3 separate regions of the Homo sapiens genome follow, and all the other regions are linked to region 1. The links come from fine-mapping of genetic effects on gene expression. A gene starts in region 1. Each other region holds a variant in brackets. All regions are shown on one strand. Distances are from middle to middle. Region 1 holds the start of ISCA1 (iron-sulfur cluster assembly 1). Region 2 overlaps LOC101927603 (a long non-coding RNA gene). Region 3 holds the start of C9orf153 (chromosome 9 open reading frame 153).

The links.
Region 2: its variant is fine-mapped to the expression of ISCA1 in CD8 T cells (CEDAR, PIP 0.95).
Region 3: its variant is fine-mapped to the expression of ISCA1 in whole blood (TOPMed, PIP 0.99).

Annotation. Positions count from the first base shown.
Region 1 is chr9:86,278,535-86,289,378 of GRCh38, forward strand. It overlaps ISCA1 (iron-sulfur cluster assembly 1), which reads right to left and starts at 4,004. Exons shown (of 4, transcript NM_030940.4): 1 at 3,844-4,004. The coding sequence starts at 3,924. It overlaps LOC124902194 (a long non-coding RNA gene), which reads right to left and starts at 3,547. Exons shown (of 2, transcript XR_007061634.1): 1 at 3,435-3,547; 2 at 1-2,919. TUT7 (terminal uridylyl transferase 7) reads right to left here. Exons shown (of 27, transcript NM_024617.4): 27 at 9,199-10,210. The coding sequence ends at 10,143. RefSeq lists a silencer at 3,385-3,684 and enhancers at 3,855-4,004, 4,125-4,404.
Region 2 is chr9:85,523,297-85,534,140 of GRCh38, forward strand. It overlaps LOC101927603 (a long non-coding RNA gene), which reads right to left. Exons shown (of 2, transcript XR_007061633.1): 2 at 10,771-10,844. Among named protein-coding and RNA genes, the nearest start is that of AGTPBP1, 210 kb to the right of the region's middle. The variant C/T (reference allele first, on the strand shown) is at 4,689.
Region 3 is chr9:86,254,013-86,264,856 of GRCh38, forward strand. C9orf153 (chromosome 9 open reading frame 153) reads right to left here and starts at 5,645. Exons shown (of 4, transcript NM_001276366.4): 1 at 5,538-5,645. It overlaps ISCA1 (iron-sulfur cluster assembly 1), which reads right to left. Exons shown (of 4, transcript NM_030940.4): 4 at 10,534-10,844. It also overlaps the pseudogene RN7SKP264. The variant CTTTA/C (reference allele first, on the strand shown) is at 7,253.

The DNA.
Region 1 (10,844 bases):
TGACATGTGCCTGTAGTCCCAGTTACTTGGGAGGCTGAGGTGAAAGGATTGCTTGAGCCCAGGAGTTTGAAGCTGCAGTAAGCCATGATCATGCCACTGCATATGAGCCTGGGTGACAGAGGAAGATCCTGTCTCTAAAAAGAAAAAGGTTTGTAATCATGGCATATATACATAATTTTGCAGCCTCCATTGAAACAATTTAACAAATTATTTTTTCATTTGATACATGGTAATAAACATATATTCACCATTTACTGAGCACCTTCTAAGTGTTTAATGGTTTAAACGTAACATCTTTTTATTCCTGCCATTGTGATTTAGGTATTAAAGATTAAATAATTTGCACAGCATAAGTCAAAGAATGAAGATTTATAACGCTGAAACTTAAAAAAAACCATAATTTACAATGACTACATCCTTCACCAACAGGATCTACTCTCACGTACTTAACCGTTCTTTCACTGTTAGACTGCTAGGCTACTTCCAGTGCTTCTTGTGTAGTATTTCCTAAACTGCCTTCGTATAGAAATCTTAGTGCTTGGTCACTGTTCAAAAGGACTTCTGGTTCTAGTCCAATGAACTAACACACAGTTCCTTACTGAGCATTAAGCATTTCCTAGCTTCTCAACTGGACTCCAATAGAAAGTTAAGCCCTAAGGCACCTTCCGTACACAATGAATTCATCAAGAATGATAGTGGCTGTGCACCATCATTCTCTCATAGAACTTGGTTGAGTTTTAATGCACAGCTGTGATCCACCCCAGTCCTACAAATTAGAGTTGCTCTGACTTGTACAATGATGGAAATAAATCTGTCTGCAAGCAGGGCACTATTTACTCTTCAGATTCTTTAATCACATCTGGCTCCTGCAAGTTCAATTCCACTTGTCAATTTCTAGATATGTAGGGAAATAGGGAAGATGTAGATAATCTGATAATGACAGCATTGAACTGTGTTATATTATCAGTTACTTTTCCTAGCCTTTTGTTGACATCTGGTAGACTCCACACATATAGCACTTTTCAAATGTTGCAACATGTCAAATTCCTAACATCAAAATTTATATATCCAGGTAACATTTATCCCTTCCAATCAGTTTTACTGAATTAGGTATACTTGTGTTTGCTCTTATCTGTCTCTACTTATTAGACCCAAGTAACATTTACCTCTTCCAATCAGTTTTACTGAATTACGTATACTTTTGTTTGCTCTCTTATCTGTCTCCATTCATTAGGCCTTTGACGGCATCACTACTTTTGCACTTGACGATACATGCTGATGATAAACTAAGCACAAAGAGCAATACATGCCATAGTGTCCTGACTAGGGCACGAATGCTGGAACTAAAATGACTGCAAGCCCACCAACACAGGCTGTGTGGAAAACAGCATTGATGTGCCTTCTCTCTGGTACAGCTTCTGAGAAGCTTCTAAAGTCAGCCATACTTAAGTAGGACAACAGAGTACAGACAGTAGACTCCTGCAAGTTAATCAAAACAGCTGAGTCAGGCAACATGGATACCTTGAGAACTGCTATGATAACATGTACTGAAGCAGAGGGGAGCAAGTGTGGAGAGAGACCAAGCCTGAGAATGTGCAGTGCTATTACTCCTAGTAAGAGGTGGCAAAGGCTTGGCCTGCGACTGTGCCCCGTAGGCTGGGAACTGTATAACTCATTCATTTGTCTTGAAACACAGCAGATCTTGATAAATGTCTGCTGAATGACTAGGAATGGAGAGAAAGGGACTGACATAGAAATTCTGAAGGAAGGGCAAGGCACGGTGGCTCATGCCTGTGATCCCAGCACTTTGGGAGGCTGAGACGAGTGGATCACGAGGTCAGGAGTCCAAGACCAGCCTGGTGAAGATGGTGAAACCCCATCTCTACTAAAAATACAAAAATAAATAAATAAATAAGCTGGGCATGGTGGTGGGCGTCTGTAATCCCAGCTACTCAGGAGGCTGAGGCAGAGAGTTGCTTGAACTCAGTAGGCAGAGGCTGCAGTGAGCTGAGATCACGCCACTGCACTCCAGCCTGGGCAACCCAGCGAAACCCTGTCTCAAAAAAAAAAAAAAAAAAAAGAAATTCTGAAGGAAGAGGTAACATGTCAAATGGTGATGGAGAAAGACATCAGGGACCAGGCATGGTGGCTCACACCTGTAATCCCTGCACACTGGGAGCCTGAGGCAGTGGACTGCTTGAGCCCAGGAGTTCGAGACCAGCCTGGGCAACCCAGGGAGACCCTAGGTGCATGCATGACGGTGCACACCGGTGGTCCCAGCGACTTGGGAGCCTGAGGTGGGAGGATCGCTTGGGCCCAGGAGGTTGACGCTGCAGTGTGCCATGATTGCACCACTGAACTACAGCCTGGGAGATAGAGTGAGACCCTGTCTCCAAAAACAAAACAAACAAAAACAAACAAACAAACAAAAAACAAAAAACAAAAAACCCAGTTAATAGGGTTGCTAAAAAGCAAAAAAGAAAAGGCAAAAACTGTTCCTGAACCTTCTGGCTCTTCCTGGATCTACCATTACCAGTGGAAGAATTCTGAATAATTCTTACTGAGATTGAAAGAGACACAAAGAATGAGTTGTGCCCTCTAGTTCTTAAAACCTTGTTTAATTCTACATCCCACGGTGTATGAAAATAAGCTTGCTCCTACAGAAAAGAGGTAATATAGAATGATACATAATCAGTACACTAGTAGTACCATATATAATCAGGGTAATATCAAAGGCCTAAAAAATTGATTATAAAAATAAATTCTCTCACCTGATCACAATTTTCTTCTACTTTGCTACAAACTTATTTTCTGGTAATAGGCCCTTTTGGCATTAGATGCAACAGAATCGATGAGTCAATTTAAATCGTTTTTTTTCCCAGTCTCTAAGCGAATGGTTGCATAAAGTCGTCTCCTTCACTAAAAGGGGAGTGTATGTAGGAACGTGATCATAAATTTTTCTTTTGGGGTGAAAGTATTTTGGAACTAGATAGAGGTGATGGTTGCACGACACTGTGAATGTCTTAAATGGCACTGAATTGTACCCTTTAAAAGGACTAATTTTATGTTATGTGGATTTTCCTTCCACTAAAAAACTGAACGGTGCGGCCGGAACACTGAGCTCAGTGAATTCTCTAAGTAATCAATGGTTGCACTCTGGTGCCCTCTGAGTGTTTGACCTTTCACCCAGAAAAGGCTGTAAACTCACTCTGGGAAATCATCTTTTGTCCTAAGAGCCTAGGCTTGCTAGAGGCACAGAGGGAGTTTCAAAGGCCTCAATCACCCAGGACACCGGCAAGTAACGCTTTGCGCGCCGCGGCCGTGACCTCGGCAGGAGCCGGGGGCTTTGTTGTCGCTGTGCTCGCCCTCTGCGAACGCTGTCGCCCCGACACAGCGGTCCTTCGGACAGCCTGGTCCCTCCCCACCCCACGCACCTCCAGGCTAGGACTCCGGGCCACCACCGGGAACCCCCGCCACCGGGCACGTTCAGCCTCTGCTTAACCGGAACGGCCGAACAGCGCAGGCCGGCAGGAGTGTGGAGGCGATCGGCCCCCGGGGACGCCCACCCCCGGGATCCCCTCCGGCCCGCACGCGGTTGCCGCGCGGCCTGACGGGAAACGTAGTTTCCGGGGCCAAGAGAGCAGCCCCGCCCGGGACTTGTTTATCGTTGCAAAGAGGGGCCGGAGGCGAAGGAGGCGGCGAGGCTGTGCGGCGGGTCGGAGCGACGCCGAGGTCTGACGTGTCCGCGTCCCTGCGGCCCCACTCCCGGCCGCCGTGACCTCCCCTTGCACGGGGCGGACACGAGCAATGTCACGGGCCCCGCCGCGCGCCGCGAGCACTCACCAGGGTGAGGGCTGCCCGGGTGGGCTGCAGCTTCCTCTTGCTCACAGCCCGGACAGTTGCCCGGACTAAGGAAGCCGACATCTTCGCCGTCCCGGCGCCCCGGTGCCTCGGGCCGAAGGTCGGCCGCCTCAGCTTCTCTCCATGGACACGGCGGGCGCATTGACGCCACAAGCTTCGGCGCACGGCGCCCTCAGTCCTAGCCCCGCCCCCCGCCGCCACCATTGGGTGAGTTGCATGAGTGACGAGCCGGGGGCGGGGCAAGCCGCTCGGGGCGGGGTTTTGCCGCTCAACGCCGGGGGTCTAGCAGCTGGGTTGCGCACGGTCTCCGGCAGTGGGGTTACCACGCTGCAGGGCGCAGGGCCCGGGAGGAATGTCTTCACCGCCGAGGACGGAGTCGGCGTGACGTCGGGGAGCGGGCGGGAGGGGGCGAGGAATGACCTCAGACCTGCTGACTCCGGATGCACGTAGCTTCACCACCTGCCCCCGGGGCAAGGTGCAGCGTCACCCCCTGCTTTAATACTCACCGTGACAAACACCATCATAGGCGGTGACACTTAAGGACGCATAAGTCAACCCTGCACTGGGAGCTTATGCTCTCAAATGCAGAGTGATCGTTCCGATGCCCAGACATCTACATCCATTTTCATTCTTCTTTTGTGGTCCAATTAGGCTGTTCTTAAGAGCATGGCGTTACCGCAGAGTTGTATAATCGCCACCCTCCACCCTTCTCCCCAGCGTGCTGTACTGCTGGGGATGCTGAAGGGTGGTGACTAATGCAGTTTTCATTCTGGTGCTGAACTGGGAACCAACCCTACTTGAAAATGTGACTGGGCAGCAGTGTGAATAGTCACATTTATAGCGAGCAACAATTACTCGATTTAAAACGTGTTGTCAGACCTTGTCCTGGCTGCTCAGGGGCTTAATTCTGCCTTTTGATGCAGTATTCCTGAGCACCAGACACTGCACAGGCGCGGTACCCAGGCATACACAGGAAGCCAGGTAAAGAGGGGCCAGGGAAGAATGAGATACTGGCAGGACAGGGCTAGCAGATGAAGAGAGGAGGACATCAAGACAGGTGGCATTTGTCATTGAAGTGCTAGAAGTGAAGGAAAAAGGGCAGGAGGGGTCTATGAAGCAGTCCTGGGGAGGACAGATTCGCAGTGTTTGAATGTGGGAAGAACTAATCAGTGAAACATTTTTTAAAGCCAAGTTTATCTTCGATCTCCTGCAGTTTCTGAAAGGATAGTTCAAAATTCCATCAAGTAGTTCTGACTTCCTGCTACAGAAATGCAATCGCATTGACAATAAGAGGACGCTTTTTTTTTTCCCCTAAGCCTTATCTGCACATAAACTGGGGGCCGGGCGCGTGGCTCACGCCTGTAATCCCAGCACTTTGGGAGGCCGAGGCGGGGAGATCACCTGAGGTCAGGAGTTCGAGACCAGGTTGGCCAACATGGTGAGACCCCATCTCTGCTAAAAATACAAAAATTAGCCGGGTGTGGTGGTGCACACCTGTTATCCTAGCTACTCAGGAGGCTGAGGCAGGAGAATCGCTTGAACCTGGGAGGCGGAGGTTGCAGTGAGCTGAGATCGTGCCACTGCACTCCCAGCCTGGGCAACGGAGTGAGACTCTGTCTCAAAAAAAAAAAGAAAGAACGGAAGATAGGAAGAGAGAGACAGACAGACAGATAGAAAGAAGAAAGAAAGAGAGAGAAAGAAAGAAAATAAAAGAAACTGGGGGCCGGGCGCAGTGGCTCACACGTGTAATCCCAGCACTTTGGGAGGCCGGAGGCCGGCAGATTACTTGAGATAAGGAGTTCTAGACCAGCCTGGCCAACATGGTGAAACCCCGTCTCTACTAAAAATACAAAAATTAGCCGGGCGTGTTTGCGGGCACCTGTAATCCCAGCTACCCAGGAGGCGGAGGTTGCAGTGAGCCAAGATTGCGCCACTGCACCCCAGCCTGGGTGACAGAGCGAGACTGCATCTCGAAAGAAAGAAACTGAAAAAGTGATGGGAGGGAGGAAGGGAGGGAGGGAGGGACATAGAGAGGTGGTGGTGTGGTGGGTTTGTTTCTTGGCCTTCATCTTTGACTACCTGGGGGTTTGGGATCTCATATCCTCCCTCCTACAGATATTGTGAAGATTAAATGAGTTAATACAGGAGAAGCCCTTAGAGGGGTGCAAGGCACACAGCCTCACTCAAATGGTAATTGTTAATGAGTATTTAAAGATGCCATGTATTGTGAAACTACTATAATGGTGGATAGATATCATTATGCGTTTGTCAAAACCCACACAATGTACACCACCAAGAGTGAACCCTAAGGTAAACTATGGGCACTGAGAGCTAATGATGTGTCCATGTAGGTTTAAGATTGTAACAAGTGTACCACTGTGGTGCAGAGTGACAGTGAGGCACATGTGGAAACAAGGGATATATGCAGTTCTGTTTTTCTGCTTAACTTTGCTGTGAACCTAAAACAGCCCTAAAATTAAAATTTAATAAAAATAAAAGATGCTGTCATTTTTTTTTCAGTTATTGACACATTACACAGTTGTGCAGCACTTTACAAGATTCAGAAAACTCCATGAGCATATTATATTATCTCATACTAGCCTCACAACTTTGAACTGAGTAGGGCAGAAGCACTGGCATGGCAGTTTTACAGATGCTGAAACTCAAGGATTTTAGTAGAGAGCATTAGACACTATTGAAAACATCTAGTCCTCAATTTTCTGATTCAGGATCCTGTGTATGTTTAACAGACTTCTTTCCTCTATTTAATACCCACTATTTAACAAAAACAAACAAAAAAGAAAACCCCACTATTCAGTTTTTAACTTGGTTAGTTGTTTTGCACATAAGCATTAAGTCACATAATCTACTTGTTAGTTTCTAATATCACTTGAAACTGGCACAAGTCCCTGAAATAATGTTATGTTAGAATAAATAATTTTCACGATTATTTAAGCAGTATGTGAGCTTATCTCAGAGCAGCAGCTGTCCAGTGGTGTCAAAATGAGGTGGGTATGGGAAGTGTCAAAAGAGTTACAAGCTGTAACCACTTTTAGATTTCCACTAATATGTGACAGAACTTGCAATAGGGAACTGTTTCACCCCGCACTTCAGGCATTAGTTTCATAGTTCTAGACATTTAAAGAAGTGTTTTCCTGGTAAGACCTCACTTGATTATCACAACTGTGTGGAAAGCCAAGAATGGTTTCCATTTTATAGGAATGGAAACTGAACTGCCTGAGATTAGGGGACTGCCACACAGCTGGAAAACGAGGTGGGCCAGACCTTGTCTAAGTCTAGAGTTCCATTCAGTGGAAAGTCTATGTAGTTCTTGACTGCTGCTGTCCAAATATGCCTGCTTCCAAAGAAAAAACTACTGAGGGCTTTACAGTTTTACAGGGGTTTGATAAATTCTGTTTTCAACGTGTGTGTGTATATTTTTGCTTGTAACACTGAACTCTATTGATGTATTTATCCAGGATCTTTTCCACTCAGGAAAGATTTAAAAGTAGAAGCCATTTGTCAAACATATTTCAAGAAGAAAAATACACTGAAGTTATCTAAGAACATTTAAAAACATTTTTGCACACTGCTGATCCTGCACACATTGAGCAAGAGTTTTGTTGTTGTTGTTGTTGTTTGAGATGGAGTCTTGCTCTGTCGCCGAGGCTGGAGTGCAGTGGTGCAATCTTGGCTCATTGCAACCTCCGTCTCCTGGGTTCAAGTGATTCTCCTGCCTCAGCCTTCTGAGTAGCTGGGATTACAGATGCCCATTACCAAGCCCAGCTAATTTTTGTATTTTTAGTAGAGACGGGGTTTTGCCATGTTGGCCAGGCTGGTCTCGAACTCCTGACCTCAAGCGATCTGCCCGCCTCGGCCTCCCAAAGTGCTGGGATTACAGGGGTGAGCCACTGCACCCAGCCAAGCAAGAGTTTTAAACATCATAGATTGGGGCCACTGGACCACTGCTATACAAAAGAGATTTCATATTTTTGTTCCTGAGAGAAGGTGGCAAGGAGAACCTTGGTAATGGGGCATTTGTACAGCTTAAGATAGATAAGCCGGCTGCACTTGAAAGATAGCTAGGCCAATGGACTTAGCAAAGAGCAGACGTTTTGGCATCCCAGCTGGGGCAGCAAGATGGGGCTGCGACCACATCCAGGTAAAGAATCAAGGGCAATCCATTATCCAGGCCTGCTGGCAAATACTGCTCATTGTCCCATGGATCCAGTGTGAGGTATTGAAAATCAAACAAAAGACCCAGTACTTTGGGCAGAAGCTACCTTAAGGATCAGATTAAAATGTAGGAAACTTTTAACATCCTTAAAGGGATACAAGAAAATATGGCTCCTATGAAAAGGAAGAGAATATAAGTAAACTAAAGAAATGAGAGGTAAAGGAAGGTCAGTGAGGCAAATTCCAGAAAATTAGAAGTGCAATGAGAAAATCCATATTAGAAACAGGAAGCACCAGAATGACAGTAAAAATTAAGCCAGTCATGTAGAGATTAAACTTGAAGTTTTCCTAGCATGAAAAGTCACTGGATAGATGTATTTCTATATTGAGGTAATTTTCTTTCTGAATTACAGGGATAAAATTAAAAAACAGAAGCACCCAGGCAGAAAAACAAAACCTACAAGAGAACAAAAATCAGCCTGGTCTTAGACTTGTCTTCTGCTATAATGCTAGAAAACAACAGAACAGCATCAATGGGCTTTTCAAAGAAAAGTGTGACAAGCATTGTAAGCCTAGTCGACTTTCATGCATGAGTTAGAGAGAAGAAACCAGAAGGGGGCAGCTGAGGACGGTCACGTAGAGCAGCATCAGCCCAGGTTGCGTCATTCATTAGTTTGCGTTCAAAATGAGTAGGGAATGATCACTAATTCTTTCTACCATGGCCTCCAAATTCTGAAGTCTTTAATTTTGATATGATTCGTCTTTAGCTAGACTGTCTTCAAATAATTGTTTAAAAAAGAAGGGCACAGGGATGTGCGTCTTCTGAGTCCTCAAACATCCAGAATGTTCGTCCAGCAAGCACCCCCTGAGCCTCCCTGCCTACAAATTCCCCGCCCCCCCACCCCCATCTGTGCCTTTTATAATAACAAATTTATACGTTCCCAGAGCCTGGAACACACTGGATGTTAACACACACCAATGATTGCAAGGGCACAAGTCAAAGGGAAGTCTGTGTACACTATTTTAGGGGAGTATATTTGTCCTTTCTTCTTTTTTGTTAAACGCCTCTTACTATCATTCCCAATGTTCTCACTCCTTGATCTTTTTTTTTTTTCCCCAGGAAATTTAGGAATCTTTCACTAGAAAATAATGTAGATAAAATTACAGGTTGAAATTCTGATTTTATTTCAAAATGATAAATAAACCGAGGCATAGTTCTGACCAGGTACTATGTCTGCAGGGCTTTTGAAATTAAAGAAACAGTCCAGGAGGGCTCCAGTCAGACCCAGAATGACACCAGCCACACTTGTGACTGGCAGAGATAACCTCTTTGATCTTCAGCAATTTTAAAAGTTCTTCATCCTAATTTCTGAGTATCATAAAAAGTAAAAAGTACTTTCATTTTATTTTTCCTTTGAAAATGTTTTTAGTGGCAAACAGGACTACTTGTTTTCCTTACTTCATTTTTATAAGCATAGTAGTTATATGTCAATTTACTTAAAATTAGAGAGGGAAACCCCAGAGACCTGAGTGGCACTGCCCATCCACTGAAGGCCCACATAAATAGGTACTCATGTTCATGTTATCACGTCTACAAATAGCAATAAAATGATGTCCGTAAATCGGAAGTACAGCAGTAGCAGTTCATACATATCTGATATGCTTTCACACCAGGATTCAGTAAACAACAATAAATATAATTTCCCCTCTTCAAAACAAAAAATGGATTTATACGGAAAAAGGGTTAATTTACTTGGGGTTTATCAGCACACCATTTTTAATGTGCTTTGAAAGAATTAAAAACCATGAAACTGTATTCACTGAATACCGGTCCATAGTTATATTTTTTCTTTTAACGTGGCTTAAATACATACATCATGTCTTTCTATTAAAATCCTTAAATCTATGGGGATGTGTGGTAGATAAGACTATATTAAAAATTTTTCCTCATTAACAATTTCATTAAATTAAAAAAAAATCTGACATTTCCCTTAAATGTTAAGTTGAAGCCTGATCTACACTGCTGTGTCCTGTGAAATGAACCTAATTTTCCGAGTGAATAGGAACGCCTGAGTGGCCATTTAGAGTGCTGCATTTTCCTTCCCTCATGATTCCTGCTGGGTCCTCTTCGCTGAGGCTTTTCCCTGAGTCATATATTTACTGGAAAGGCTACCTAGAGGAGGGGAAGAAACAAAACCCAATATAAATGAAACAAGCCTCGCTTTATGACAAAAGCCATAAAATTACTTCTTATTAAGTAGTCACAAAAACTTCATACTAGAATTGGTCACTTGTTTTGAATCAAGTAATAAGACTTGATATTGAAAAGTATATATGCACATGATTAATTAAATATAAGCTTAGTCAAAATTCTTTCTGAATGCAGACAGGTTCCTAGAGTGATCTCATTTTAATACATTTACATATTCACTATTTCCATGTTGGTACAGAGCACCAGACGAACTTAAGGTTCTGCCTTGTATAATTCAGTATCTTCATTTGCAGCCAAACATAATAGATTGCAAAGAATTATCTGGCCAGAAATAAATATCTTAGATCATTACTCTGCAGATACGAAGCTGTGGATGGTAATCATTGTAGCAATAACTTATTGATATAAAAGGAAAAAGGGAAATTTATTATATTTACAGGTGGAGGACACAAATGAGGATTACTGATTAAAACCAATACCACAGAATAGTTACTAAATTTTGTTCTGGAGTCTGAACAAATAGATCAACGAAAAAACTGAAGAGACCTGAGAAATTCTTAAGTGATTATATGTAACAAAGTAATACATAATGAAG
Region 2 (10,844 bases), 760 kb before region 1:
ATCGTCTGAAGGCTCGGGTGCCTCGACGTGCCAGATGGCTCCCTCCCAGGGCAGGTGTGGGTGCTGCCTGGCAGCTGAAATTTCCAGGGCTGGAGACTGAAGTGTCCGTTTGCACATGGCTTCTCCACGTGGCTTGGGGTTTTCACAGCATGGTGGCTGGGTCATGAGAGAGAAGGTACCAAGAGGCCCACACTGAAGCTGGAGGGCTGCTTATGAGCTTGCCTCAGCAAAAGTCCCAGCCACATTGTATGGGTTAAGCAAGTTACTTAGGCTAGCCCAGTTTCAGGAGGAGTGGAATTAGATGCCACTCGTCAATGGGAATTTGTGGCTATCTTCGATCTACCACACTTTGTTTCATAAATAAGGAAACTGAGACCCAGGAAGGTCTTATCCATAGTCATTCACGCTGTTAATGGCAGATTCTGGACTGATACCTACACCCCACCCACCCCTACCCCAGCCCCACAATCTTCATCATTGTTGATAAAGGTGTAAAGTAGTTTTTTGCTGATAAACACAAAGATTATTATAATTAGAAGGGGAAAAGCCCTCCTTTAGGTCGAAATTCCAGGCTGTGTTTTAGGGACTACTCATCGAATATAGAATTTTTCACAAAACTTCATAAGATCCCTCCCTATTTCAAATATGATAGGGATATGTGGCTATCTGTATAGATACAAAATTCATTCATAACAAATAAAAGCAGCCATAACCTCCCGTGGCCACTCAACTCAAAACTAGACCCTGGGGAAATTCTCAAATTATCTGTGACAAGTATTTGCCGAGCCTCTGTATTTTGAGTATTTTATCAAATACACCATAAAGAAGGTCTCCCCCTGTGGAAGTCTGTACTTTAAGGCCAGAAACAGAATAGAATGGGTAGTGCTGTCTTAGAAAGCCAACTACCCCAAAAGATGCCCTCACCACATCCTTCCCAGATACTCCACTATCAACCCAAAACAATAGAATTTCTGCCAGAGTGTCTTCCTCATCATCTGTGTGGCAGAGACTTTAAGATATCCAAAAATCTATCCTCCAATTTTTCCCACAAGTTTCATCTGGCCATATGGCTGTTTGCATGAGAACTCTAATTCCCAGCTGCTCATGCACCACATTCGGACCAATAGAAGATGTACTGAGGTAGGTGTGTGCAATGTCTGGAACCAGGACCTCAAAGGGAAGGAGTGCAGCCTCCACCTCTCTTCTGCCTTTTCTGCTGGCTGAAATGCCGATGTTCCAGTCAGAGGTAGAACAGTCCTCTGACCCACAAGATGGAAGCCTGCTGTAAATGAGTGTGACAGTCACTGGTGCTGCTTGCCATATTCAGTTCTCATTGCTCTGTGGGAACACCTGTAGGAAGGTTTCTGGCCACTGAGTTGCATGTATCACTTCCAGGCTGAACATTCTATTGCTGATGTAAGGCGTTTGCTGTGGCTGCCAAAAACATTACAGATAGTGGCAGTTCCTTCAGCATGACTCTCGGAAAAGGACAATGCCTCTTTGTTGATCTGCAATAGACAGCTAGCACAAGGGAGAAATAAAACCTTGTTGTTTTCAGCCACTTAGATGTTTAGGATTGTTTGTTTCTGCAGCATAGCCTAGGTTTTCCTGACTAACACACCAGGTAACAAGGTAGAAGGGTCTTGGGTCCCTAAAATCATAGCACCACGATCGCTTCTGCACTGGTGGTTCTTTAGCGACCAAACGATCTCCTTGCCAATATAATCATCTTTAAGGGACCAAATTTGGAAGTTGTTTTGGCTCCTGGTGATTAAAAGGGCACCAGAAACCTGAACTTTGAGTGCTGAGCATAGTTGAACGTGCAAGTTTGAAGAAATAGAGTTTAATCTCACAAAGGAAACTCTGAAAGCCAGTGTCAAACCCACACTCCACCCAGCATGGTAAGGGAGCTGGGGTCTTTATTCATCAAATCCTGAGAGTCATTGGTTGAGTGTGGCTCCTAATTTTTTAGCATTTCCAGCCTGATGTGTTGGCAGCAAATAAAGTCAGTTTGGAAGACAGAGAAAGCCTTCAGGTGAAGCAATGTAAGTGCTGGCAGTGTTGAAAGTTGGCCTGTGTGCATTGAGGAGGTAAGAGCAAGAAGATATGGACAAGGCACCACCAGCAGGTGCCATGTTCTTCTAGTTTCTCCACCCTATCCTTAGCAGGAGCCTCTGTGTGCAGGTGCTGACAGGAAGAGCATCTACAATCCAGCAAGCACAGCCACATCTGAGTAAAACCCCAGCACAGCCCAGACCCTGCTCCCCGTCTCTAGCCTTCTTGTTTATCCCTTACATATTCTGCAGTAACCAGACTGAACATCTGTAGCTCATCCAATATTTGTGTCTGTCACTCTCTAGCCTTTTGCATATTCTGTTCCTACCGTTCAGAAGTCCCTTCTCTGGCTACAGAGGCTGAAATTCAGACATAACTTCCCCAAGAAAGACTTCCCTAGCCACTCAAGTCCAAGTGAGATGCCCATCCTCTGAGCTCCCTTTGCCCAGGTCTCCCAGTGTCCACCCCAGCTTATTTGTCCCCTTGCCCCAAACCAATAACCCCAGACAAAATCCTGACTAGCAGATGAAGCAAGTAGGTCTAAATACTAACACTGCAGTAGGCAAGAATCTCATTCTTGCAAGAGGTGGACACTCCTCCCATGCCCACACAGCACCTTCTGTGAAATAACTGTCCCCAAGCACCTTGCTTACTGGATTGGCCATTTTTGAGACTCTTTCTTTCAAAAAAAAGAGGTCCCAGGGTGGTAGTTGCTACATGAATCCTGAGCAGAAGACAGCAGCAAGCTGGTCAATCTACAGATTTTGTATAATGATAGAGAAATTACCATCCACCCCTTCACACCTACCCCAACCCAAAGCTGACCCAATGCTCCCTCTGACTGGAACAGGAAGCTGTGGCTTCCTGCACCATGTTCTAGAAACAGTGTCTCTTCTCTCCCACTCAGTGCCTCCTCCCTTTCTTCTGTCCTGGGAACTTCCTGGGAAAGCATCATTTTTCCCCTAAAATGATAATCAACTGTCTCCAGCCTCCTTATCATAAACAAATAAGAAACACAGATAAAGGAGCAAACATGAAATAAGATGTTAAAGAATACAATTCTCACCAAGAGCCCAATGGACTCCCTAGAGCTTCCTAGGTTGCAGTGGTTTGAATGATGGCATCCACTCCAAAATTCCAATTGAAACTTAATCTCCAGTTTAATGGTATATTAAATTATGAGGGCTCTGCCCTCATGAATGGAATTAGCACCCTTATAAAACAGCTTGAGGGAGCCCTCTCTTGCCCTTCTGTCCCTTCTGCTGTGTGAAGACACAGCGTTTGTTGCTTCCAGAGGATGCAGCGATGGGATGCCATCTTCGATGCAGAGCATAGCCCTCACCAGAAACCCAACATGCTGAACTTGATTTTGGACTTCCCAGCCTCCAGAACCATGAGAAATAAATTTCTATTGTTTATAAATTACCCATTCTGTGGTATTTTGTTATAGCAGCACAAACAAAGATATCTTTTGTCTGAAAACCTAAATGCCAAAAGCAGGCCTGGGTTATTCTGGGAATATTGGCCAAAGAAGGTTGGACCTGCCTCTAAGAGACTATTTACAACCCCGAATGCAAAACCCAATCCCCAGTGTCCCCTGCCAGTGCATGGACTACATCAGGGTCTCACTCATCTGCAAGTAGCACCACCATTTTCTGAAGAGAAAGAACTCCCATTCCCAAAAGGAACAGAAAAAAAAAATCACATCTATACTCTTTCTGCTTCCTGTGACTTTCTTTCTTCTTTGTTCTTTTCCTTACTTGAAAGCAGTAGGGCAGAATTCGTTTCGGGGAATCCTTGTAACATTTCTTCCCTAGTAAAAAATAGGGAAAAATAAAATATGGTCATAAAAAAACAAAGTCAAAGGAAAGGAGAGAAGGGAATTAATAATATTTGTTTAACACTTAGTATATGTGCAGTATTGTAATAGCTGTTTTCAGTCGTTATCTTATCAGTACCCACAATCTTCTGAGGTAGGTATGACCCTACTTTACAGATGAGACGAATGACAATCAGAGAGGTTCAGAAATTTGTCCAAGATCCACAGCAGAGGTGGAAAACTCTAATATGATCACTCTTCTTTTTTATCTCTTTAACATGGCCAGCCATCTGCTCTCTCCAATGCCAAGTCCATCTGCTGTCAGAAGGCCTCAGCTCCCCTACCACAAGTTCACCCAGGTTGATCCAGGCACCTAGTTTGCAGAAGCTTTCATGTCTGTTTGACAAAACACAGGAAAGAAAGGCACTCCAGGCACAGTGTGAGCTACAGAGCTTTCTGGAACAAAGGGTTTTAAACTCACCTTTTTTGAATGATCTCAATTCTGAGAGAAACAAATAAAAACAAGAATTTTTCAGCTGTGGTCTGTTGGAATAGCTGGGCACTTTTCTCGGTATGTGACATCATTTTCCTTCCAGACTTCCATGATAAAAATAGCCTGGCAGACCCTTTGAACCATTGTCTTCCTGAAACACAATGTGGATTGTGTGTGTGTTTACCACTTTGAAGAAACACTTTGTGACATAAGCCATGCTGACAAGCTGTTCCAGGGGCCTGACTGACACACAGCAGGATCTGTACACTTGTTAGGCTTACACTGAGAAGACACACACACACAACACACACACACGCTGCT[C/T]TTATGTGGTCCAGCCATCTCACACTCAGCACGAGGCCCCCATTCTCTCTCTCCTAGGCAGGTAGATCAGGAAGATGCCTATCAGAATTGTAAGAAACTGCCATCTTAAATTTTCTAACTGCTTTCCTATCTGGGTGGACTTAGTACATCCCGTCTGTGGACTCTGTCACTCAGGTGACCTCTCTGGGCTCTGGAAAGGTGAGGTGAGTAGGCCTCCTCTGTCCTGGGGCCTTGACAAGGGCTCCCCCTTATAATAGCACTTTAGATGGAGAGCTGGTTGCTGGAGAGGAAGTGAGGACACTTGCTGTGCAGCGTATTTTGGGAGCGCAGGGAAAGGAAACAGACCTATGTCTGCGAGACTCACAGTATTAGAGCCTCTCGGTTAGACTGAAACATTCTGGCCAAGACCAGCTGCTCCACCCCTCCCCCAAAATCTTCAGCTCAACAGTCACCAGGGCATGAAGCCACTTGACTAAGTCTCATAGTCACCTGTCAGCGGCCCCCAGCAAGGGCTCCACACCCAAGCCCTTCCCATATCTGGATGTCCATGGCTACCCCGTATCCACAGGAGAGATGGCAGGACAAAAAGGGAGGAGTCATGACTGGCCCTCCCACCAGAGCAGCAGCAGAGTGGCCTAAAGGTCTCCAACAAAAGTGAATCTAAGTGTTCAAGGTGTATACCCTGTGGGTGGCAGTCACTCCTGCACTCCCCATCAGAATCCTTGGTCAGACCCAATGTACCAGCTAGTTCAACTTTCTCTAAGCGTCATCAGGCCCATGACCAGCAGGAAGTGGTGACCAGCAGATGAACCTACCCTTAGTCTAGTGCAAGGGCAAGTGGACACCCCAGCCAGGGGAGTGTAGCCCCACCACCACCCCTATCTTCATGCGCAGGCAGGCCCCAGGGCCATCAATGAAGAGGCAGCATGGCTGCAGACCACCACCAGCCTGCGGTCTCCTCCTGTGCCACCTCCAGCCCCCACTTCTCCCAACGATCCCTGGAGAGGAAGAGGAGCCCCAGGTTTGAAGTGACTTTAAGGAGTATCTGTCTGCTGCAATCTCTGCAATCTCTGCCTGCAGTCTTGCATAGATGGGGAACTCACTCTTCCTCGGTCAGCTTATTCCACCTCCAGCCATTTCCTTACTTCAACCTCATACTTCACCCAGGACCTCCAGGGCCATGTGGAGCCAGTGCAATCCTTTGAACACCTGGACCTACCAATCACGCTGCTCTCAACTCTACACGGATATGAGCATGAAACAGTTTTCTTTTTCTCCAGTGATTTTCCTCAGTCCTACCTCGTCAGCTCTCCCATTTCCTTCCCTTCATGACATTTTGCAGATTTAAGCTCAAATTCTGTTTAAGCCTCATCTTCTTCCTTCCTCTAATACTTGCTTCAGAGAGGCCCTGAATGTGTACGGGGAAAGGGTCATGGTCTATTTCTGAGTCCTTCTTCTTCAGGGCAGCACTCTTCAGTATATGTCAGGGTGAGGGGCTAAGAGAGGAAAACCAACCACTGTTTCTTTAGTCACTTGGGTCCCAACACAGTCCTCTCCCTGTTGGTTGCCTCTGCTTCCCAGGCTAAGAGCTGGGGACTAGATTTGGCCCAGCTGCAAACCTCCCTATTGGTTGGCACAGCTGTTGGCACCTCCTGGGACAGGTGTTTCAAGAGCTGTGTGTCTGAGTCTCAGAAGACCCTGCAGAGCCCTTTGGATGGCACAATTCTTTGCAGTCTCTCTAGTGCCCTCGGCTGGAGTCACCTGCATGCATCCCATGGCCTTGCAGGAGCACTGGCCCATCCGTTGGGCAGTAACTCAAGTGGGACACTGGAGAACCATCTCAATCCCAGCTGCCTTCCACAGGATGCCCTCCCTGGGCCCAGGGAAACCCTTGCATTCCTGCCTGCCTCACCTTTCCTTTAGGACCCATCGGCTCAGGGCATTTTGATCATCAGTAATCCCATATCCACTAAAGGTGCAGGTGAGAACACAATCAGTAAAAACAGCCTGAAAATTCCACCTTTCTGACATTCAAAAGTGAAGATGGACAAAATCACGCCAACAAAATGGCACCTTGTAGTGGATTCAAAACTGTAGGAAAAGGAGAATATGTGGCAGGGAGTGCTATGAAGTGAGAACATCCACATATTGTGAATAGCTCCATGCAAATATGGGCACCAAAACTGGCTGAGCTATGTGGTCCCCCTTGGGTCGGGCAACTTCCCAGACCACCTGGCAGTCATCAAGGACAGCACTGGGCTGCTTAACAATCTCATTTTATTATACTTTATCTCTTTTTCTCCAAAACTGAAACCAAACTATCACTCTACACTGAATATTAGCCACATGGAAAGCCTTAAAATTCAACCCATTCTCAATAATTTGACTTTTTTAAATGGGGAAGGTATATTGTTCTCATTTTCCTATTCTCATACTCAATGGGGAATTGAAACAAACTTTCCATACACTTGCAAAAAAATATATAAAAAGTATCACCTGAAGCTGAAGCCAAACATCAAATATTTAACTCAAGCAATATGAAAGGTGGTCAGTTTTGCTCATGAAAGCAGTCACGTCGTAGTTTCATAAGTGACGTGTAGAACTCATTGCACGATAGCATGGCGACTGGTATTTGGTTGTTTTCTCTTCTCTTCTTTATCGTCCAGTTCCTCTCCACTGTATTTGTGTTCTTTTGAGCCCTAAAAATGCCTATAAGTTTAGCAGATTTAGCAAATTTAGCACCATAAATGTACTATCTCACAGTTTCTTTAAGTCAGACGTCTGGGCATAGCATGGCTCTGCTGGTTCTCTGTGTGGTCTCATAAGGCTAGAGTCAAGGTGGCAGCGCTGCACCCCTTTCCGGGGGCTCTGGGGATGAACTGACTTCCAAGTTCATTCAAGTTGTTGGCAGAATTCCCTTCCACGTAGGACTGAAGTCCCATTTCCTTGCTGGCTGTTGGCCAGGGTCATTCTCAGCTTCTAATCGCTTTCTGTGGCTTGGGGACTCCTCTTCCATCTGCAAATCTTTCTGGCTGAGTCTTCCACATTGAAGGGTTCCTGTGAGTACATTGGGCCCACCCAGATAACCCAGGGCAATTTATTCTAAGGTCATCTGATTAGTAACCTTAATTCTGGCTGTAAAACCCCTTCACAGCAGTACCCAGGTTAGTGTTTGATGGAATCACCCAGGACAGCAATCCTGAGGGACATCTTTAATTTTTTTCTTTTTATTGATATATAATAGATGTATGTATTTTGGGACATATTCATATAATGTGCAAAGATCAAATCAGGGTAATTAGGGTAACCATCACCTGAAATATTTATCTTTTCTTTATGCTAAGAACATTCAAATTATTCTCTACTAGTTATTTTGAAATGTACTATATATTAGTGTTAACTATAGTCACCCTACTGATCTATCGAACATCAGGTCTTATTTCTTCTATCTAACTGTATATTTGTGCTTATTAATCAACGCCTCTTCATCTTTTTCTATCCCCTGCCCTTCCCTGCCTCTGGTACTAGGGGACATCTCCAGAGCTCTGCCTACCACAAACTCCTTTCCCTCCCATTTACTAACTTATTTTTTAGTTTAATTTTCTTCTTTGCATAGATAAAGACCCAAGCAATTTTAGCACGGATATCCACTCTTCTGTTCTGATTTGAGGGGTATCTACATGGTAGCATCTCTGCCATTCAAAAAGCACTGAATTTGCAATCCAACGGCATGGACTTGAGCCTTGGTTCAGGCAAATACATGAATGACCTGCATGCACATCTCTTATATCTGACAGAGGCTCAGTTTCCTCAGTTGCGAAATAGGGATGATACTACATCTCTTAGAGAAGTGTATAGCAATTGAACAAAGTGATATATTTGGAAGTTCTTTGGAACTCTAAACTGCTTTGCACATGTGTGCACATTCAGACATGCACACAAAAACTAGGTTCAGCGTAAACATCACTCCTCCTGTGAAGTCTTCTCCAACTCCTCAAGGCAGGGCTGGATGTCCCCTCTCAGCTCTGAGCCTCCGGAGCCCAGAGATGCATGCCTCTAAGACAGCACTTGTCTAATTCTACCATAATTATTTATTTCTCCCATTAGACTCATTTCCCCTCCAGGGCAGGGGTCATGTCTTATTCACTGCCATCTCTGCAGCACTGAGCGCAGTTTCTGATGTGGAATTGGCACACAGTACATGCTGCTGAAAAAGACAGCAGCCCCTCCCCTCGGTGTCCCAATGCCAGCCTCTGACAGGGTGCTGGGCCCCTACCAAATATCAAAGGCCAAGGACGTGGGCTTTGAAGCAGCCCAAAAGAAACCAGTATCTTCTCTGGGAGGTGAAGAAAACTAATGATTAGTATTCCTAGGTCTCCCTTTGCTGATCAGCAACACACATCCCCCCTACATCTCTTTTTTTAATTTATTTTTAACCTTCCTACTACCTGCTACACAACGTGTCCCACCTCAGTTGAAAGTTGTGCTTTCAAGTCCCCAAAATTGAGCATAAAGATTGATTTCTCTTTATTTCTTCTGCCTCCATACACAAATCATCAAGTCTTGTTTCCAGCTCCGAAAGATTACTCAAATCCCAAACTTAGGAAACTCCAATCCTTTATCAAGACTGCATAACCTTTTCCTCAGAGATTGATGTGGTTTTTATTATACTGGTCAGCAAACAAATTTGCTCTCTGTTTGAAAAGAAGACACTATTCTTACATTCCCAAAGCTGTTTGCTTGAGAAAATAGTCCAGAACAGAAGCTGCAAGTGCCTCTGCTTACATGATATGCAGGAGCAGAAAAGACACATGGAAGATGTCTCCCAATGCTACTTTGAACAGTGTGAAAATTAAGGAAAAAGTAAATCAATTTAAGTATTAGGGTGCATTAGGCTGCAAGTAACAGAAATCCCCACTAACAGTAGCCTAAACAATAAAGTACAGAATAGGAAGTCCAGAGCTGGTTTGGTAACAATACAATGGCAACAAGGACTCAGGCTATTTCTGTTCCACCATTCTCAACTTGCTTCCTGTTGGTTCTCGTTCTCAAGATGGATGCTGCAACTCCAGGCATCACAGCCACTTTCAAAGGAAGGAAGCAATAGCATTGCCAGGTGCTGAAAAGGTGCCCTTTTAGTGAGTCTTTTTCTTTTTATCAGGAAGAAATATTTCCCAGAAGCTCTGTGGAAACCTTCCCTGTATGGCCCATTGGCCAGAACTTGGTCCCTTGGTTACTTCTATCTGTAAGGAAGGCTGGGGAAGTATTTGGTAAAAGGGAATAGGAGGCAGTGATTGGTTTGGATCAATTATGATCTCTCCTAAGATTTATTGCCACCCTGAATAAAACCAGAATTCTGTAAGAAGAGCAGAGAATGTTTGCTGCTCCACCACCTAAGTGTTATGCTGTGCAAGGATAGTGTCTCACACTAATCAGTGAAACTCAAACTTCTTTCAAAGAGAAAGGCAAAGTCTCGTAAAGAACTTCCAATATCAAATACACAGAAGCAGGGCTTCTCCACCTCAATATCAAATACACAGAAGCAGGGCTTCTCCACCTCAGCCAGGAGCGAACATTTGAGTCTCTATCCACTTAGCCTCCACTCAACAAACCTCATCAGCACACACACACACACATACACACATATACACACACACTCATACACACACTCACACACATGTACACACTCATACACACATGCACACATAAATACACTCACACATGCACATACTCATACACATACAATCTCACACACACTACACGTCCACACACTCATACACATAGACATACTCATACACATACACACACACGCAGTCATACACACATACACATTCACACATGTACAGACATACATACATTCACACATATGTGCACACACATGCATATACACACCACACACACAAACACATATACACTGTCACACATACGAATATTCACACATACACTCACACATGCACACATACACACATATGTGCACACACATATACACACACAGATACAGACACACACAAACTCATGTACACAACAGGAGATAAGCTAAAATCTTTGGGATCAGAAAAAAAAGACCATTTGTTTAAATAACTGGTGAATAAGGAAATTCTTTTAATAGGCAATTTTTCTCAAGGAATGTGGCCAAATAGCAGGAATACACATGGC
Region 3 (10,844 bases), 25 kb before region 1:
CCTGGGAGGCAGAGGTTGCAGTGAGCCGAGATTGCGCCATTGCACTCCAGCCTGGGAGACAGAGCGAGACTCCATTTCAAAAAAAAAAAAAAAAAAAAGACTGCAACTTATTTTGCAAATAAATTGGTCCTACTATATTTTAACCTTGGTAGAAATGGGGAACTGCAGAGAGAAAAATTATGTTTCAGAAGAAAACTGTAGTACACTTGTTAGATTCTTACCTTGTCCATTGTTTTTGCGTTTTTATTATTTGCCTCCGGTTTGGACTGAATGCTGAATTCTTTGCTGGCAACAAGTCTCCAAAGTAATATTTTCAGATTTGCATCTCATTTTGCTGACTTGGAATTATTAGAAATTAAAACTCTGCTCTTTATTAGAGCTCTGCAAACTGATGCTAAACAATCTGGTATAAACTTTGAGAAAAATCACCACAGCAACTTATATAAAAACAGTCTTCATGTCTGCTGCTGTGTAAACTACTCAGAAAGTTTGCTTGAACACCTGATTTGAACTATAAACCAGAAAAATCTGTCAGATTGCTACTGCAATCTGATGATACTTCAGAAACTCTAGAACAGCTAGTTTATAGATAGACCACTTCAGACATTACTCTGTTTTTCTTCTGTTTCCATAGAAATGCCTCTTATTAAAGATCTGTTTACCTGCATTGTATAGAGAGGCCTAGCCCATCTGCAATGCCATCTTCTGGAATGGGAGAAAATGGTTTAACTGAACTGATGTATTTTCAGAACTAAGAGACTTGGCCGGGCACAGTGGCTCACACCTGTAATCCCAGCACTGTGGAAGGCCAACATGGGTGGATCATCTGAGGCCAGGAGTTTGAGACCAGCCAGCCAGCCTGGCAAACATGGTGAAACCCCGTCTCTTCCAAAAATACAAAAATTAGCTGGGTGTGGTGATGCATGCCTGTAGTCCCAGCTACTGAGGAGGCTTAGGTGGGAGAATGGCTTGAACCCAGGAGGTGGAGGTTGCAGTGAGCCAAGATCACACCACTGCACTCCAGCCTGAAAGACAGTGAGACGCTGTCTCAGAAAAAAAAAAAAGAGAGAGAAAAAGAAATGAGACTAATTCAAGAATATATGGACAATATATTTAAATTTGCTCTTTTTTGCTTGTCCCAAATTTTTCCCACTCCTTTGCCTATCTCTATCTAACAACTTCTAACCCAAATCTCTCCAAAGCCATCAACATGGCTTTTAATATGTGAAAGTTTTTTAAAGTTTCAAAGTAGGACTGACAGAAATAAAAATATTTTACCCCCAAAATATCCTTCTTTGATACATTTTGAGGTGTCTGTTCAGAGAGCCAGCAAACAGAAGTAGCCCTGCAAAGTTGTCTTTCGTGGGGAGATTTGCATCGTACACAATCTGCCTTGATGCAGCCTGGCTTCTTCTGAGCCTTCCCTTGTTTGATGTAGGAAAGATTAACTGAGAGTTTGACACCTTTGAAGGTGGGAAACATTTACCATGTATTCTTTCTGAAGGCTGCTACCTGTGAGGTTTCATCTACATAGCAAGACCACCTTTGCTAGCCAGGCCTCCTCTTCTCTCCCTGCCATAACCTGTCATGCACCATAACCTGATTTACCACCATAACTTGTTTTGGGCCATTCTCTGAGCTCCCATTCTCTTCGTAACCTCAAGATGGTATGTAAGCTTCTGTAACCCACTGGGCGTTTGGAGCAATCATTCTGTGGTTCTTTCCTATGTGCACATAAATAAATTCGTATGCCTTTTCTCCAGTGAATCTGCCTTTTGCGAGTTATTTTTTTCAGCAAACCTTCAGAGGGCAAAAAGGACATTTTTCCCTTGGCTCCTACAGGGGTGTTGTTTTCTGAGCCATAATAAGCTCATCTGGCCAGGTCTTATATTTTGCTCAGGGGACTTGGGGAAGGAGAACTTTGATTTAATCTAACACGTTTTTCAGATGTTCATTGTGGCACTTCTTACCCACTTTCACTTATCAGCTGCCTCTGTAAGATCATCACACCTGCAGCTTTGCTTGACGCAGTGAGTCCTGGTTGTGATTCTACAGCATTCTGGAATCATGAGCACAATGTGCATTCACAGATGATTCTGATGCGTGAAATATCCACTACTGTCTTCTCACTTCTTACTTTCACTCTTCAGCTGCTTATGTAAGATCATCATACCTGCAGATTTGCTTGACTCAGTGAGTCCTGGTTGCCATCCTACATCATTCTGGAATCGTGAGCACTATGTGCGTTCACAGATGATTCTGATGTGTGGAATATCCACTACTGTCTCCATCATTATTTTAGGTTTCAATGAATACCTTCGAGCCACTGATTCAATCTAATATAACCCAATAGCAATGATAAAGATTGCAGACTTACTAAACAGAAATAAGCAAATGTTGTGAAAAATATATTAACCAGAATGAACTGTATCCTGCTAATTGAATGTTATTTAAGAACATTTGATTAATGTCATCTTCGTGGAAAATGCTCAACATTTAAATACGCAGGAGCTATTAGGAACAAAATGAGATTTCTGGGAAATCATTACTATGTTATTTTCAATTTATGAAGTGTGACTACAACTGTTTCATTTGGGAAAGGAAAGTAGCTCAGAGCAGTCGGAAGAATCTGAGGAATGCAAAATTTATCAGAGAGACAGGAGAGTCTCATTAACCCTATGCCCAGGGTTAATTGTTTAAAGGCATTTTGTATTTTTCTTCTATTGCCTATAGTTTCCAGACCAGCTGATAAATTACCTAAAATGCTATGAGTTGCACAATGTGACCCTCACCCATATCTTCATTTTTCTGGAATTTGTGATACAAAGAACAGCGCATAGCCAGTCAATAGCTTATACTATTTTGAGTGAGTCACTGTGGCATGCACCTGTAATCCCAGCTACACGGGAGGCTGAGGTGAGAGATCACTTGAGTACAGGAGTTCAAGACCAGCCTGGGCAACACAGGGGGAAACCTTGTCTCAACAAGAAGAAGAAGAAAAAAAGAAGCTTACGGTATTTTAATGAACCAATGTAAATACTTGGTAAACAACTTTAGAACTACCTCTTCTTTTTTCCCTTTAAAAACCCACTTATAATTGCCGATTGGAGCATATATTCTGGGCAACTTGAATCAATGTCCCCAGGGTTGCAGTCCTCAAACTTGGCTCAAATAAGCTCTCTACTTATATTAATTTTGCCTTGGCTTCTTCCTTTAGGCCAACAGATTGCCTTTTCTTCTGAAACCCCAAAGCACCTGTGGCTCACTGCAGCGATTACTGGGTTCCATGCTTTGGGAATGCTAGTCTAAGTGAGAAGACTCCTTGGGGAGGAGATGGGAGCCCATAGGAACCTGAAGATTCCCCTGCAGAACAGCAGGCCTTTTAAGCTCCTCCCTCCTGGCTTTCACTTGTAATCAGTTGGAGGCTCCATCAAGCCAAACAAGACATCTGCCCCTTTTTCAGTTCTCTCAGCTGTCACTTTTCATCTAGACTTCATTAGCTCCTGCCTGGTCTTTCCCCAAAATGCCTAATGGACTTTCCTGGCTGATTTCCTTGATCCCTTACCCTTGAGTCTGGCTGTCTTCCCAGGGGAGCCGCTTGTCTGACATGGCAGCTGGCACAGAGTAGGCACTCAGTAATTTTAGGCCTTCTGCTTTAGTTGTCAGAGGGTGAATTGACAACACGATTGATTGACAGGGAATGCAATTTACTACTGCTGATATAACAACCAGAACTGAAAATATGACAATCAGACTTAGCTCCTCAGAGAGGGGAAAAGTCTGTGGTCTTGGCCAGGAACAGATCAGTTGAGTGGATTTATATACCAACACAATGGATGACAAAGGTGACAGTGTCCTGTCACGATGGCTTCAGGGAATGAGCGGTGTGGGCAGCTCAAACAACCCATCTGGGGCTAACGTGGAGGGGGAGAGAGCTCATCAATCTTGAGCAGATATTAGATGCGGAGGCCAGATTGCTTTCTTGTGTGGGTTTTATAGCTGTGCACATTCAACTATTAAGGACAACCTTTATTACTAAAATTTTTGTAGGACGGGTGCGGTGGCTCACGCCCATAATCCCAGCACTTTGGGAGACCAAGGGGAGCAGATCACGGGGTCAGGAGATCAAGACCATCCTGGCTAACACGGTGAAACCCTGTCTCTACTAACAATACAAAAATTAGCTGGGCATGGTGGTGGGCGCCGGTAGTCCCAGCTACTCGGGAGGCTGAGGCAGGAGAATCACTTGAACCCAGGAGGCGGAGGTTGCAGTGAGCCGAGATCGTGCCATTGCACTCCAGCCTGGGCGACAGAGTGAGACTTTGTCTCAAAAAAAAAAAAAAAAAAAGGAAAAATTAATTTTGTCATAGAGGATGAAACTCTTAATCCTTCCTTTGAAGTAATTACTTTTAGAGAGCTTGTTTGGAGGTTCTAGCAGGGGAGTGCAGCTACTCATATACCCTTGCCCAAAGAACGGCCCTCCTCTGTTGGGGAAGGTTGTCCGCAGCGTCTGGAAGGACGCATGTGGACGGATGAGGGAGGAAGGAGACATCCACCTAGCCAGCCAGATCAGACAAATTAACCCTGGCCATCAGTGGGGTGACAGATGTTGCAGCCAGATCACCCTCACATCCGGAAATAATTGCTTTTAAAACGCAATATTTGAAAACCTGAATTTTCTTGGGTAAGCAACTATTATATTGCTAATTTAACGAAACTTTTTTTAAAAATATTAATATACTTAAATTTTAGAGCAATTTTAGAATTGGTTAGAAAGTACAATGTTCCCACAACCCCCCTTCTCTGCACCATACACACAGCTTTCCCCTTTTTTTTTTACTACTTATGTTTGTGTGGTACGTTTGTTATACTTGATGAGCCGGTATCAATGCATGGTTACTAACTAAAGCCCATACTTCACAGTTTACATTACGGTCCATTCTTGGTGTTGTGCATTCTATGAGATTTCACAATGTGCAATTACATATATCCACTTTGATAGTATCATACAGAGCAGTGTTTTTTTTTTTTCTTTGAGATAGGCTCTCATTCTGTCACCCCAGCTGGAGTGCAGTGGCGTGAACACAGGTCACTGCAGCCTCAACCTCCCAGGCTCAGGTGATCCTCCCATCAGCCTCCCAAGTGGCAGAGGAAAAACAAAGGACACTGGGTGTGAGGGAGAGGTGCAAAGTCAGGACCAAGCATCCATGGGAACACAGGGGAGGATGAAGGCACTGAGGTTGGGGAGAGAGAGCAGAGCTATCAGTGTTGAAGGCCGGAAAGGATGAGGGAGTCTGCAGGCTCGGCCCGATCAACTGGTTCCAGCTTCTGTGACCTGCCTGGAGGAAGATGAAACAGGCTCCTCATCCTTATTGGTAAAGATAAACCCAAATCCCATCTCACCTCCCAGCTCTGGTCTTCCCACCTTAGCCACTGCCCACCTCACTCCATCTCTCCTTGCCAAGCCTAGACTGGCTTAGTTTTCACTGCTCTGTGGTCTCACAGTGCCCCGTGGCTATGGCTGTAGATGCACTTACCACTTGTTTTACAGTTGTCTCTTCACGTGGTCATATCTGTCTTGAGTCTCTGCACTCCCAGGGCAGAGGCTGGGTCTCATTCATCCAGCAGCCCCAAGGCCCAGCCCCACTCCTAGCATGTGTCATTGCTTAGTGTTAAGTGACTGTCCATTGTGACATGTGGACATTCTCAAGGTCACATAAGCAGCTATATGATGCTAAGCGATGGGGAATTATCTTGCTGCTTGGTGGGGGGTGGGAGACGGTGGAGGATGATGGAAAAGCATTTTTAAAGAGTGAACATTGAGTAGCTGAGTAGCTACTTTTTTTTCTGCCTCAGCTTGTGGCTGGGACCCCGGGCGCACGCCACCACGCCTGGCTAATTTATGTATTTTTCTCTAGAGATGGGGTTTCGCCATGTTGCCCAGGCTGGCGTGAGTATAATTTTTTTTTTTTTTTGAGATGGAGTCTCACTCTGTCGCCCAGGCTGGAGTGCAGTGGCACGATCTCAGCTCACTGCAAGCTCCGCCTCCCGGGTTCACGCCATTCTCCTGCCTCAGCCTCTTGAGTAGCTGGGACTACAGGTGCCGTGAATGTAATTTTTAATCAGTCAAGTTTTTCCTTCTATAGACATGGGCAAAGTGCAAATAAGAAATTGAGAGAGATAATAGAAGGTACAGCTATGCTCTTTGCACCTGGCCAGATATGGGTAGAAGTGGACCAGGGGCTACCTGGCTGTGCAAATTCTCTCCATGAGCCATGCAGCCGTGCTCCAGACTCCATTCCCCACCCATGGGAGGTCCCTGTGGCAATCACTGAAAATTTTCCTGAAACAGCCATTTCCCCAGAATGCAATCTACTGGGCATTTAAATAGTCTGATTGAGTTAATAACTTGTGAACACCGTGGCAACATATCCATAACATGAAGCTTACCGTGTTAAGCCGTTTTAGGTACACAGTTCTGTGGCATTCAGTACATTCACATTGTTGTGCCACCTGCACTGCCTTCCATCTCCAGAGCTTTTTCATCTTTTCCACCTGAATCTGTGTCCATGAAATAAATTTCTCACCCCCTGTCCCCTGTCAATGGACACCTGGGTTGTTCCTACCTTTTGGCTATTGTGAATAATGCTGTTATGAACATGGATATACAAGAAAGTTAATAATTTTAAGCAGAATTTAATAAATACAGAAGATTCTTCCAATGAGAAAATATTTCAAAAGCCTGCCATTCAAAGGTGTTCTGCAGAGCAACAGCACTGGCTTCACTTGGGCCTTTGCTACTAATGCAGAATCTCAGGCTCTGCCCTGGACCTTTGTTACAGAATCTGCTTTTTTTTTTTTTTTGAGACAGTTTTGCTCTGTCACCCAGGCTGGAATGCAGTGGTGCCATCTCATGTCACTGCAACCTCCCCACCTCCCAGGTTCAAGTGATTCTCCTGCCTCAGCCTCCTGAGTAGCTGGGACTAGAGGCGCCCACCACTATGTCTGGCTAATTTTTGTGTATTTTTAGTAGAGATGGGGTTTCACCATGTTGGCCAGGCTGGTCTCGAACTCCTGACCTCAAGTGATCCACTCGCCTCAGCCTCCCAAAGTGCTGGATTACAGGCGTGAGCTACCTACTGCGCCCGGCCAAGAATCTGCTTTTTAACAAGACCCCCAGGTGACTTATTTGCACCTTAAAGTTTGAGGACTGCTTCAAGACATAGAATCCATGGAGAACAAAAAATGAGTA[CTTTA/C]TTTTTTATTCTTTTTTTTTTTGAGACAGGGTCTTGCTCTGTCATCCAGGCTGGAGTGCAGTAGTACGATCTTGGCTCACTGCAACCTCTACCTCCTGGGCTAAAGTGATCCTCTCACCTTGGTCTCCTGAGCAACGGGGACTACAGGCATGTACCACCATGACCAGCTAATTTTTGTATTTTTTGTAGAGACGGCGTTTTACCACGTTGCCCAGGCTGGTCTTGAACTCCTGGGATCAGGTGATCTGCCCACTTTTGCCTCCCAAAGTGCTGGGATTACAGGCTTGAGCCAACACACCTGGCCCAATAAATGGGCACTTCATCATGAAAAGTTTCGGAATCACTAGCTAGTGGAAGTAAAAGCAGTAACCCATCAAGGCCCTCAAAGTAGGCTAGTTTTAAGCTGAGTACCGCTGGTACAGAGCCCTTGCCCCGCTAAAGGTTGGTGTGAAATGAAGCCTTCCCTGAACACTGCACAGCAGCAAGGGAGGATGGGAGTCCACAGTGATGTAACCACCACATGGCTCTGTATTTCAATAGAGGCTGAGGCTAGGGTGCACCTCCCTCTCTCCTCCATCTCTTGTCTGATGAGACCCACCTGGGACCAGGAGATTGAGTTCCTACTGGGGAATGAGCTTTCAAAACAGCTCCTCAATTAAGGCAGGTTTGTCTATAGTTAATCAGCTACTAAGAGAATGAAATTTCTCCGAATGTTTATATTTGAAATTTATGGTTCTTTTCAAAGAAGTTACTGTGGTCTTTTATTTGAAGGAAATACAGCAAATTTCCCCCAGATTTGAATATGGGACAATAACTCCCTAAATGTGTTGAAACTCTTTCCCTAAGCTCTTGCTTTGATTGATAATCCATTAACATATTATCCCTTTTTGCACAAGAAAATGGCTAAAAGGGACAAGAATTACAACGTATGAAACGTCTACCCTTAGCAGGATGCCATTTATGTGTAGTTAGCTCATCACATCCCCCCAAATTCTGAGACTGTTTTACAGAAGGTTACATGGCTACAAAATGACAGGAACCATGATTCAAATCCAGGCATATCTCACCCCAAACCTACACCTTTCCAGGCCAGCCTCCCAGCCTGCACTGAGCTCAGGTGAGCTGTATTTGGGTTTATTCTGGGTCGATGCTGTGTCTGGCCCATGCCACGTCTGCTCTAAGGCTCAAATGAGACACTGATGTTGCTTACAGCTCAGCTTAGCACAGGCTTTTCCATTTCCTGATTTCTCAGGTATCAAAACATGACAAGAAAGGCCATTTTTTTTTTGAGGTATTTCCTGCTGAGTGAAACCTAGGAAATACTGGAAATCTTAGGGACATCTGATCTTGTAGGGATTGTTCCCAACCCTTTCCTGTTTGAGAAAAAAAAAATCATTCTGGTGGGTCCGGTGACAGAGGGCTGGGAGGCGCCCTGCAACAATGAAGCACAGCAGGCCTCTGTCCTCATGGCCTGATTCATTCAATTTAGCATCCTGATGTGGAAGAGTGGGCTTATAACTGATCATGAAAAGCCTGAAGTCTGCTGCTAAGCGACAGATCTGCTGGCCTACACATCACCCAGGGGCACTACCAAATCGCCTAACACAATGACCAGTGTTTGTGAGTAGAATGTGGATGAATGTGGTGCAACAGACAGAACCTTCCTGGTGAGGGCTAAGGCTTGCATGACATGGTGTGACATGGCCGTAGGATGGAGCCATTTTGCAAAAATAATTCTGACCTGCCCGATGCTAAACGAACACTGAAGAAGCAATTGCGTTCCTGTCTCCAAGATCCTTTCAATATTGTACAAGAGACAAGAACCAAAACCAATGAACAGTACAAGTACTGCCTGTACAAATAGAAATGAGTCACAGAACACTGGCTGATGAGGTTGGGCTACGGATAGAGTACCATCCTTTCTGCCTCCTAAGCCTTTCTCTCACGGGTCCCTGCTCAGGTCCTATTATAGCGGGCTTTGCAGTAGCTTCTTCCTGTCCTCATCAGCCAGCCTAGTCCAGGCCATGGAAACACTTCCAAATGCAATTTTCTAATGAGTGCCCCTAAACACTTTCAGTGGCCCCAAGGCCTACAGAACTTGCAGAAAGCCCAAACGCCCCAGGCATCTACCTTGCCCTCCAGCCTTACTGCTCCTCTCCGGGCCTCATTCTCCGGAGTGCTTAGCTTCACTGTGTTTTTATTATTACTTTTTATTATACTTTAAGTTCTAGGGTACATGTGCACAACGTGCAGGTTTGTTACTTATGTATACATGTGCCGTGTTGGTGTGCTGCACCCATTAACTCGTCATTTACATTAGGTATATCTCCTAATGCTATCCCTCCCCCACGACAGGCCCTGGTGTGTGATGTTCCCTGCCCTGTGTCCAAGTGTTCTCATTGTTCAATTCCCACCTATGAGTGAGAACACGCCCTCTGTGTTTTTTCAACCCTCTTTAGTACTGTTCACTGTCTTCCCTCTTCCCCAAATCTCTTTCAACTAGGCGCAGGGGTCATAACCTGTAGGCTACCTTTTTAGAAGCGCACTCCGTTGGTTCTATCAGGACACGCAGTATGGCCTAACAGCTGGGAGCACAGCATCTGGAGCCATAGACACAGGGTACGATTCTGACTTGGCCACCTTAGCTATTTTATTTAAGCTGTGTTTTGGTTTATCTATGAAAAAGACAGTAGTCAGACCTGCATTCTCGATTGCTGAGATGATGTTTATTAGAACACTTCCTGGCATGCAGTGAGCATGCCATCACCACCAGCTGCTCACAACACTTACCATGGTGATCGATGCTCTTCGCTGGTGTCTCATTTGCCGACTTGAAGCTCTCTGAGGTTGGGACTGTCTTTGATGACCTGTGAAAGCTCAGGGCTAGTGGAGAGTCAGTGCTCACTACTGTGCCTGAGTGAACAGCTGAGAACCTTCTTGGAGGAGGTTCACATAAAAGCTCAGATGACAGAGGGAAAAGCACTCCAGGTAGTGATAATGCTCTCGTCCTAAGGACATGAGGAACCTGCTTGGGGGATGGATGACCCTCATGGGGAACAAGGAGGAAAAAGAGGCTAGCAAAGCCAGGGAGATGAGAGACACCTGAGATGGTCTCTCCAGGGCTGTGTGGAGAATCAGCAGCTAGGACTCTGGACGAAACAGTGTCAGGTAGGGAGGACGCCTGGTGACAGGCAGCCTAGGCAAAAAAGACAGTCATTTTTTTATTGGCTTTAGCAGCTGCTGTCCCAAACCCTCTCCCCTCAATAATAAAAGGCAATTTTATGATCACAAAGAGGCCACATTTTTTTTAATTGACAACTCAATCTCTACATACATACAGTGTTGCACGAATTATAAGTGGATCAACAATTATATTATTGATACAAACTCATGAGCATTTACATAAAACTACCGCTCTAGGTTTTGGTGTGTTTTGTGTCAGCTACTTTAGTGAATAAACGAAACATAAAGGAACTCAGCTACTTGAATTCATGAGAATCAGCTTTCAAAAAAAGCATATATATCATCTCATAGAATACTTATGTCAAACCCAGGAAAATCAGTAACTAAGTGACAAAAGGAACACTT